Linked DNA regions of Homo sapiens: region 2 is linked to region 1. The links come from fine-mapping of genetic effects on gene expression. A gene starts in region 1. The other region holds a variant in brackets. All regions are shown on one strand. Distances are from middle to middle. Region 1 holds the start of RHPN1 (rhophilin Rho GTPase binding protein 1). Region 2 has its middle 4.3 kb from the start of TOP1MT.

Region 1 (4,430 bases):
CCCCTCTTCCTGGAGCCCAATCTACCTGGGCAGGGGCCTGGGAACCTGTAACCAGCACCCAGAGGGTGCTCCTGTCCAGCCAGGCTGGGGAACCTCAGGCTGACCCACTCGGCATGCTGGAGACCAGGTGAGGGGGGCACAGCCACCCTGCCCACCTGCTGCTCCAACGCTCTCCCTCTGCAGCCTGCTCCCCCTTCTCCCACTGGCCTCCCCAGGAAACCACAGAACCTTCTGCATACAGCCAGGCTGTATTCCTTGTGGTCCTCCCCCGGGAGCCCCTGCAGCCCCTGCGGGAGGGACGGCAGCTGGGTTGGCCACCCTGGGCCGTGCCAGGCTTCTCCCCTTCCCAGCTTGGCAGCCTTGGCCACTTACTCACCCTGTTCATCAGACGGGCTGAGGCCCAGGGCTTGGGAGGCACCAATGGCAGGACTCCAGCTGTAGCACTGGCCCTGGCACCAGGTAAGCGCTTGCTGGAAGCCTGCTCTCATCACGCCTGGGGCAAATACAAGTCACCCAGACCTGTCCACAGGGCCTCAGGCCCAGGTGTGGCCTCTAAGTGGATGAACGACCGACCCCTGACCCACTGAACTCTGAGCTTTAGGGCCAGTTTGGGGGCCAGCCTGATGGGGGTGGAACAGGCCTCACTCTAGCCCGGCAGCAGGCATCGGGGAAGACTTTCCAGATGGCAGGACAGCCTGAGTGGTGCGCGTGTGACACAGGGCCTGCCTCCGCCCCACTGCCACCTCCCACGGGCCCCTCCCCAGTACCCTGACTGTGGGGTCATTTCTGGACGCTGTGAGAGACACGGCAGCCTGGAAACAGCTTCTCCCCAACTTTCCAAGGTGGCAGCCCAGGGAGGGCCAGGACAGGGAGCCCAGGCACAGCCCCCAGCCTGAAAAGCGTCACCTCCGGAGCCCTCTGGGACATCTTGTTTGTACAGCCTCCCAAACATTCCACCCAAAACAACATGTGCCGTCCCAGGCCACCTGCAGGCATGGCCGCCCTGACAGAGCAAGTTCATAGGGGGCAGGCACAGGCTGCCTCTTTCCCTCCAGTGCCCAGGAGGTGCTGCAGCCTCTGGCACGCCTCGGGGTGGGCAAGAAGGGCGTCCTTGAGGGCTACGGTCAGCATCACCAGCCCAGTGACCTGAAGCCAAACCCTGGCTGATAGCACCGCCTCCTCCTCTAGGAGACCTAACCCCAAACACCAAAGCCGAGTAGAACCAGCCCAGGGACAACACAGTCTGACGTCCCAGAGGGGAGGAGGGCCGCGCGCTATCAAAGGCTCACCCGGGGCGAGGAGCAGGAGCAGCCCGCGGCTGAAAGCCCGTGGCGGGCGTGGGCGCCCAGGGCCTGGCAGGAGGACTGGGGCAGCCTCGAGCTGGTCCGCAGGGAACAAGCAGGCTCTGGGCTGCAGAGCAAGGCCCACAGACGTCCCCTCCTTCCCAGGCACAGACTCAGCAGGTCTCCACAGCCCTGCCCACCCCTCCCACTTGCCCAGTCAGCACCCCGGGTTAGGGACTTCAGAAGGGAAGGAGGTTTGGGAAGTGAGAAGAGGCCAGCCGGGAAGACCTCTCTCGGTTTCCCATACCCAGGAGGCTTCGCTGCCCGCTGCTACCAGTGCACCCAATGGGCATGCAGTTCCTGAGCGGATGCAGAGGGAGGACCGAACTAGGGAAGGAGGCTGTACAGGTGCCGGAAAGGAACACGATGGCGGGTGTGGGGAGGGCGCTCACAGAGCCCAGCCCCACATCCGCCCAGAAGGGGGACACGAGGAGGGCGTCCCCCCAACCCGCTTCAGCGGTGAGGATGATCCAGACTTTGGCTGTCCGCATTTCCCGGCTCACATGAGTGGCCTGGAAGCACCTCCACCGAGCTCAGAGGAGGAGGGACGCAGGCTCTGGCCTCAGTTTCCCTGCCTGCGTCCGGGCCGAATGAGACGTAGGAGGGGGGCGCCCGGAACGCGCCTCGAGGGGGGGCAGGAAAAGGCCGGGATTCCGGGCCCCTCCTCCCGCCGCCGCGCCAGTTCTGCGCACCTGCAGCCGCGGGCTCTCCTCGCCGGCGCCCGCGCCGTCCGGCCTCTCCTCCAGGATCATCGCCGCACCCGCTGCGCTGGGGGTCCCTCGGGGTCAGCCAGCCCGCCGCTCGCGCAGCGCTCCGCAGCCGGGCTAGGGCCGCCCGCACCACCTGGGCCGCGGGCTCCTGAGTGCCCGCGCCGGTCCCCGACTGTCCCTCCTGAGTGGGGGCGGCCCGCGGCGCGGCTGGGCGGGGCACGGGTCTGGCGTGCGAAGCTGGCCATTGCCCAATAGGCGGCAATGCCGCTTCGACGGACAGCTATATCAGCCAACCAGAGTTCCAGGAAGGCGGGCTCTGGACGGCCAGCTCCGCCCGCCCGCGGGACGGTAACCCCTGGCAACCGCGGCCGGAACGCCCGCGGCTGGCTGGCAGGTTGTACTGCGCATGCGCCGCGGCGGCCGCTGAGCGTGCGGGAGAAGTTCGGGAAACGGAGAAAAAAACTATACGGAACGTCCCAAGCTGAGAGTCAGGGCGGACCTGGACTCGGCGCGCCTAGCTCCTCGGCTCCCTTTGCGGGGACTCCAGGAGTCTGCCCGCTCGCGCCGTTTCGTCCTGTCACCCCGGCAACGGGACCCTCTAAGAGGCTTGTTCCAAAAATGTTCACAATGGGGTTTTTAAAAACGGTTTTGTTAGGGACAAGTGCTTGTGTGAGTCCTCCGACAATGCCTGCTTTCTTCTCTCTGCCCGCGGAGCGGAGGCTCCAGGCCTGGCCCCAGTCCGAGGCGCCTCTGTCGGTGTCGTCCTGCTTCCAAAACCGGCCTCCAGAACCCGCCTCCTTCCAGAACCTCCGTCCAGAACCCGCCTCCCTCCAGAACCTCCGTACAGAACCCACATCCTTCTAGCACCTGCCTCTGGAACCCACGTGCTTTCAGAACTACCTGTTTGTAGAACTTGTTTCCAGAACGAACCTGCTTTCCGAATCTCTTTACTTCCAGAGCTTGTTTCCTGGACTGACCTATTTTCAGAACCTACTTTCAAAACCAGCTTGCCTCCAGGACCACCTGCTTGGAGAACTGGCCTGCAGCCCCAGGACTGGACGACCTGAGACTGCACAGCTCCCTGCGGGGCTCACCCGGCTGTGTGTGTCCTTCCGGGCCTTCCATACTTCCCTAGGTGTCTGGTGACTCCGGAGCCCGCTCGGATTTCGTGTGGGTCTCGCCTCAGCTCAGAACACACCCTTTGAAGAGCAGGAAGGCCAGGGCACAGGCGGTAACCACGGCTCCTGGTCATCAAGTTCCTCTGAAGCCCAGGTCTTGTCCACGTTCACTGCCCCACCACAGGCCCAGCGGAGCCTTGGAGCTGAGCCCTGGGATCATTCTGGTGCCTGTGCTCCCGGCTCCGCAACAAGCACACAGGAGCCTGTCATCCCCAGATCTAAATCCTGAAGGCTAAGCTCCGTGGTCTGCCGCAGCCATCTGCAGCAGGCCCCTCCCAGCAACAGCCTTCTCATAAGGCCCCTGCCAGCCACGCGAAACCTCCTGGCTAGGGCCTGTCTTCCACTCCTGGCCTTTTGAGACAGGGCCTCACTCTGTTCCCCAGGCCGGAGTGCAGTGGTACGATCACAGCTCACTGCAGCCTCCACCTCCTGGGCTCATGTGATCCTCCCACCTCAGCCTCCTGAATAGCTGGGACTACAGGCTTGCACCACCACACCCGGCTAATTTTTGTATATTTTGTAGAGACAGGGTTTCGCCACATTGCCCAGGCCCAGGCTGGTCTCAAACTTCTGGGCTCAAGCAATTCATCTGCCTCAACCTCCCAAAAGTGCTGGATTACAGGGATGAGCCACCATACCCGGCTTTTTTTTTTCTTTCTCCTGGCCTTTTGGGGCCCTTGAAGTGTCTGCTCCCTGGGAGCCCTTCAGCTTGTCGTCCACTTGGTGGGTTCCCACCCGTCCTTCTCACTTCTGCCTGAATCACACAGGCTACATGAGACCTTCACCCACCCCCTTCGCCAGCAGCTCTGTGGTTCAAGTTTCCTCAAGGTTAGGGGCTCCTGGCCATCTTACCTGTGGGCCTGAGCATGGGCCGATGCTTCCAAAGTTCACACTGGGTGCACTTGTGTGGGGACTTCCATGTGAGTCATCTCCTTGCAGGCTGCCAAGGTCCTGTACAGCAGAGACCCAAACCCTCTTAGCAGTCTTCAGAGTCAGCTATGTGTACAGGAGGCATTACCATATCAGTGACTGTCAGCAAGCATGTGTGACTGAAATGGTATCCAGTTCTTACGTATTTGTTTTGCAGGCTTCTTGGTTCAGCAGACAGAGGCCATTGGGAAGTTAAGAGAGGCTCTCAAACTTTGAGGGTCATAAGACTTCCCCTCCCTGCAGGGTGCTGTTTCCTGAAGGAAAATATT
Region 2 (4,327 bases), 30 kb after region 1:
CCAGCCGGAAGGGGGCTCTGGAAGAGGACCTGGACTGTGAGCTCACAGACACTGGCCGGGGCAAGGGCTGTGTGGAAGAGAGGCACAAACTGAGAAAAAAAAAAGAATATCCGAAGAGAAAGGGGAGAAAGGGCTTCAGGACAAACGTGTGGGGAGATGCACTGGGGCGGCAGCACGAGAAGAGGGTGGCGGGGACGCTAGGGGCAAGCCTGAGACCCTCAGCTGTGGGGAGCGGAAGAGTGCAGGGGCCGCCGTGGGAGCTGGGGAGGAGCGCGCTCTGGGCAGTGGGATAGACAGAGCAGTTCCCACAGAAGAGGTGCGAAGCGTGGCCAGGAGCAGGTGCACAGTGAGGGCATGGTGCCCACCCCAGCACGGAGGACGAGCCAGGGCCACACTGAGCAGAAAGGAGAGTTACGGGCCAGGAGACAAGCACAGAACGAGGACGAGGATGTAAAAGAAGTGTGGGTGGGAAAAACCAAGAAAGAAGAAAGTGACAAATTAGGTAGTGGCACAAAAGTGGGACAGGAGGCCTTGGTTTCCAGAAAAGAAAAGAAGAGGGAGACAGACAAAGCTGGGGAAGAGGGGACTCGAAAACCAAAGAAATGAAAAGCTCAGGACCTGGAGGAAGACAGAGAAGTGCAGTGTGGGAGTGAGCTGGACGGGGCACCACAGCCAGCGGCGTGGCCTCGCCATTGCCCTGGGGCAAAGGGTGACTGGGAGGTGGGGGGCCTGGTGAAGAAGCCCCAAGAAGAGAAAGCTCAGGGCAGCCGGAAGCCAGCCAGAAGCAGAGAGAAGTGGAAGGAGGGGGAGCCAGTTGATGCTGGGGTGTCCAGAGGGAGAGAAGAAAGATGGCCAGGAGGCAGCTAAGCCACAGGAGGAGAGCCAGAAAGGGTGGGAGAAGGCCGAAGGCAGCAGGTGGAAATGGTGTGTACCCTACCCCACCCCTTCTCTCCCTCCATGTCCTGACGGGGTGGTGGGAATGCTGTGTAGACCAGTGCTGGGAGGGGGGGAATGCTGTGCAGACCGGTGCTGGGAGGGGGGAATGCTGTGTAGACCAGTGCTGGGAGTGTGGGAATGCTGTGTAGACCAGTGCTGGGAGGGGGGGAATGCTGTGTAGACCAGTGCTGGGAGTGGGGGAATGCTGTGTAGACCAGTGCTGGGAGTGGGGGAATGCTGTGTAGACCAGTGCTGGGAGTGGGGGAATGCTGTGTAGACCAGTGCTGGGAGTGGGGGAATGCTGTGTAGACCAGTGCTGGGACGGGGGAATGCTGTGTAGACCAGTGCTGGGACGGGGGAATGCTGTGTAGACCAGTGCTGGGAGTGGGGGAATGCTGTGTAGACCAGTGCTGGGACGGGGGAATGCTGTGTAGACCAGTGCTGGGAGTGGGGTAATGCTGTGTAGACCAGTGCTGGGACGGGGGGAATGCTGTGTAGACCAGTGCTGGGAGTGGGGGAATGCTGTGTAGACCAGTGCTGGGACGGGGGGAATGCTGTGTAGACCAGTGCTGGCAGGGGTGGAATGCTGTGTAGATCAGCGCTGGGAGCAGGGGAATGCAGTTTAGACCAGCACAGGCCCACTTCCCCTCCCTGTCCCTGGTGGGGGAGGCGGGGAGTGCTGTGTAGACCAGTGCTGGGAATGTGGGAATGCTACAGTGCTGGCCTTTGCCTGCCCACTGTAGGTTGCCAGGGAGCCTGGGTGCCCCCCAGAGTGCCCTCTTGCATCGGCAGCTTTGAGCTGTGGGTTGTAGGGTACTGGGAGCAGCCAGCAGTAAGTGAGTGTTTGCTGTGTGTCTGGCATTGCTTTTGGTCAGTCCTCTATGAAGTAGGTACTGCTATGTCCATTTTTCAGATGAGGAAACTGAGGTACAAAAAGGTTAAGTAACCGGGCCAAGGTCACATGGCCACAAGTGGGCCACACTGCAGTTGTAGCCGTCACCCCTGCTGTGTCCTGTACGCAGCCACGAGCTGCGCAGCTCTCCCAGTGGAGA[C/T]GTGCTGGGGGTGTGATACGCACGCCTGCTTTGAGAAGAACGATGCATACCATCGCATTAGCATATTATGTTGAATGACAGTATTTTGGTTGAAATAGTTGAAATTAAGTATATTGTTAAGGTCAAAGTCACTGTTTCTTTTGCAGTGTGGCTTCTGGATGGGGTAAACTCCACCACTGCTCGCAGCTGTGTCTGCTGGGCGGCGCCGCCTCCCACCTGGGCAGTCCCTGCATAGCCTTGGAGCTCCGGCTTCTGGGTGGGAAACGTCTTTATAGGTATCAGCTCCTGCATTCAGCACCTGTTTGATTCTGGGGAAATTCTTTAAATTTTCTAAGCCTAGTTTCTCTCATGCAAAACAGGGGTCCTCCTACCTGCTGTGAGGAAGAGTGCGTGAAGCCCTGTCCCCGCTCCCTTGGGCAACCCCTGAGTGGCCTGGGGAAGAAGAGGGCACAAGGGGAGGAGGCCGCCAACCCCAGGAATATTGGCAGACAGTTCATAGAAACCCCTTCTGGTCTGCAGGCCCAGACTCCCCAACTGTGTCTCTGGCCTTGTGCAGTGGGTGCCACTTTTCCACGCCCTCCCCAGCATGTTGACTGCAGCCACCCAGGTGTGAGGTGACCTCACTGTGGGTTGGATTTGCATTTCTCCCATGGCTGATGATTTTGAGCATCTTTTTACAGGATTGTTGGCCTTTTATATCTCATCTTTGGAGAAATGTCTATTTAGATTATTTATCCCCCTTTTTAAAATTAACATTTTTTTTTTTTTGAGACGGAGTCTCATTTTGTTGCCCAGGCTGGAGTGCAATGGTGCGATCTCAGCTCACCACAGCCTCCACCTCCCGGGTTCAAGTGATTCTCCTGTTTCAGCCTCCCGAGTAGCTGGGATTACAGGCATGAGCCACCACGCCTAGCTAATTTTGAATTTTTAGTAGAGACGGGGTTTCTCCATGTTGGTCAGGCTGGTCCTGAACTCCCGACCTCAGGTGATCCGCCCGCCTTGGCCTCCCAAAGTGCTGAGATTACAGGCGTGAGCCACCAAGCCCAGCCAAAAAAAAAATTTTTTTTTAAGAGATGGAGCCTGTTGTTCAGGCTGGAGTGCAGTAGCCTGATCATAGCTCACTGCAGTCTTGAACTCCTGGGTTCAAGCAATCCTCCCACTCAGCCCCCTGAGTAGCTAGGACTACTGTAGCAGGACACGTTGCAGACAAAACCTCTCGGACACCGGTTTTAGGGAATAAGAGGTTTTAATCAGCTGGGAGCATCAGTAGAATCGCCTCTCAAGATCCGGGCTCCCCGAGGTCCAGATTCCTGTCCCTTTTAAGGGCTTACAACTCTAAGGGGTCCATGTGAAAGGGCCGTGATACATTGTGCAAGTGGGGGCTACGTAACTGGGGCCGCATGCACCGGTGATCAGAACAGAACCAAACAGGGAGTTACGCAATGCTTCCTCATAAGAAGTCTGGAATCTGTAGATAACAGAAGCGATTAGGTCCGGGCCGATCTTTAACTACCAGGCCTGGGGTGTGGCGCCGGGCTGTTTGACTATTGAATTTCACTTCTGCCTTTTCTTTAACTCCTACTTTTTCTTTTCTTTGAGGCAGAAATTAGGCAGAAGACAATATGAGAGGTGGTCTCCTCCCTTACTACAGGTGTACACCATCATGCCTGGCTAATTTAAAAATCTTTAGTACAGATGGGGTCTTGCTGTGTTCCCTGGGCCAGTTTTGAAGTTTTGAAATCAGCAAGTATGAATCCTCCAACTTTGTTATTCTTTTTCAAACATTGTTTTGGCTATTCTGGGTCCCTTGTATTTCCCTGTGAATTTTAGGATCAGGTTGTCAATTTCTGTAAAAACGCCAGCTGGAATTTAGATGGGGATTGTATTGAGTTTTTGGATCAGTTTGGGGAGTATTGCCGTCTTTTTTTTTGAGACGGAGTCTTGCTCTGTTGCCCACGCTGGAGTGTAGTAGCGTGATCTCGGCTCACTGCAAGCTCTGCCTCCTGGGTTCACGCCATTCTCCTGCCTCAGCCTCCCAAATAGCTGGGACTACAGGCGCCTGCTATCATGCCAGGCTAATTTTTTTAGTAGAGACGTTTTAGCCAGGATGGTCTCGATCTGACCTCGTGATCCGCCCGTCTCGGCCTCCCAAAGTGCTGGGATTACAGGCGTGAGCCACTGCACCTGGCCAATGCTGTCTTAACCATATGAAATCATCCAGTCCGTGAACATGGGATGGCTGCTCATTTATTTAGGCTGTCTTTAATTTCTTTGGGCAATGTTTTACAGTTTTCAGAGTATAAGCTTGATACTTCCTTTGTTAAATTTATTGTGCAGTA

What was found. PIP is the estimated chance that this variant, and not a neighbour inherited with it, causes the effect. A credible set is the group of variants that fine-mapping cannot tell apart.
Region 2: its variant is the best candidate, but not a certain one, in a credible set for the expression of RHPN1 in whole blood (INTERVAL, PIP 0.56).

What each region holds. Positions count from the first base shown.
Region 1 is chr8:143,366,653-143,371,082 of GRCh38, reverse strand. It overlaps RHPN1 (rhophilin Rho GTPase binding protein 1), which reads right to left and starts at 2,207. Exons shown (of 15, transcript NM_052924.3): 1 at 2,036-2,207. The coding sequence starts at 2,095. RHPN1-AS1 (RHPN1 antisense RNA 1) reads left to right here and starts at 2,448. Exons shown (of 1, transcript NR_026785.1): 1 at 2,448-4,430. RefSeq lists enhancers at 139-1,045, 1,046-1,953, 2,694-3,249 and silencers at 1,741-1,790, 1,991-2,450, 2,461-2,530.
Region 2 is chr8:143,336,996-143,341,322 of GRCh38, reverse strand. It overlaps a transcript of TOP1MT not described here. Among named protein-coding and RNA genes, the nearest start is that of TOP1MT, 4.3 kb to the right of the region's middle. RefSeq lists an enhancer at 1,449-2,186. The variant C/T (reference allele first, on the strand shown) is at 1,989.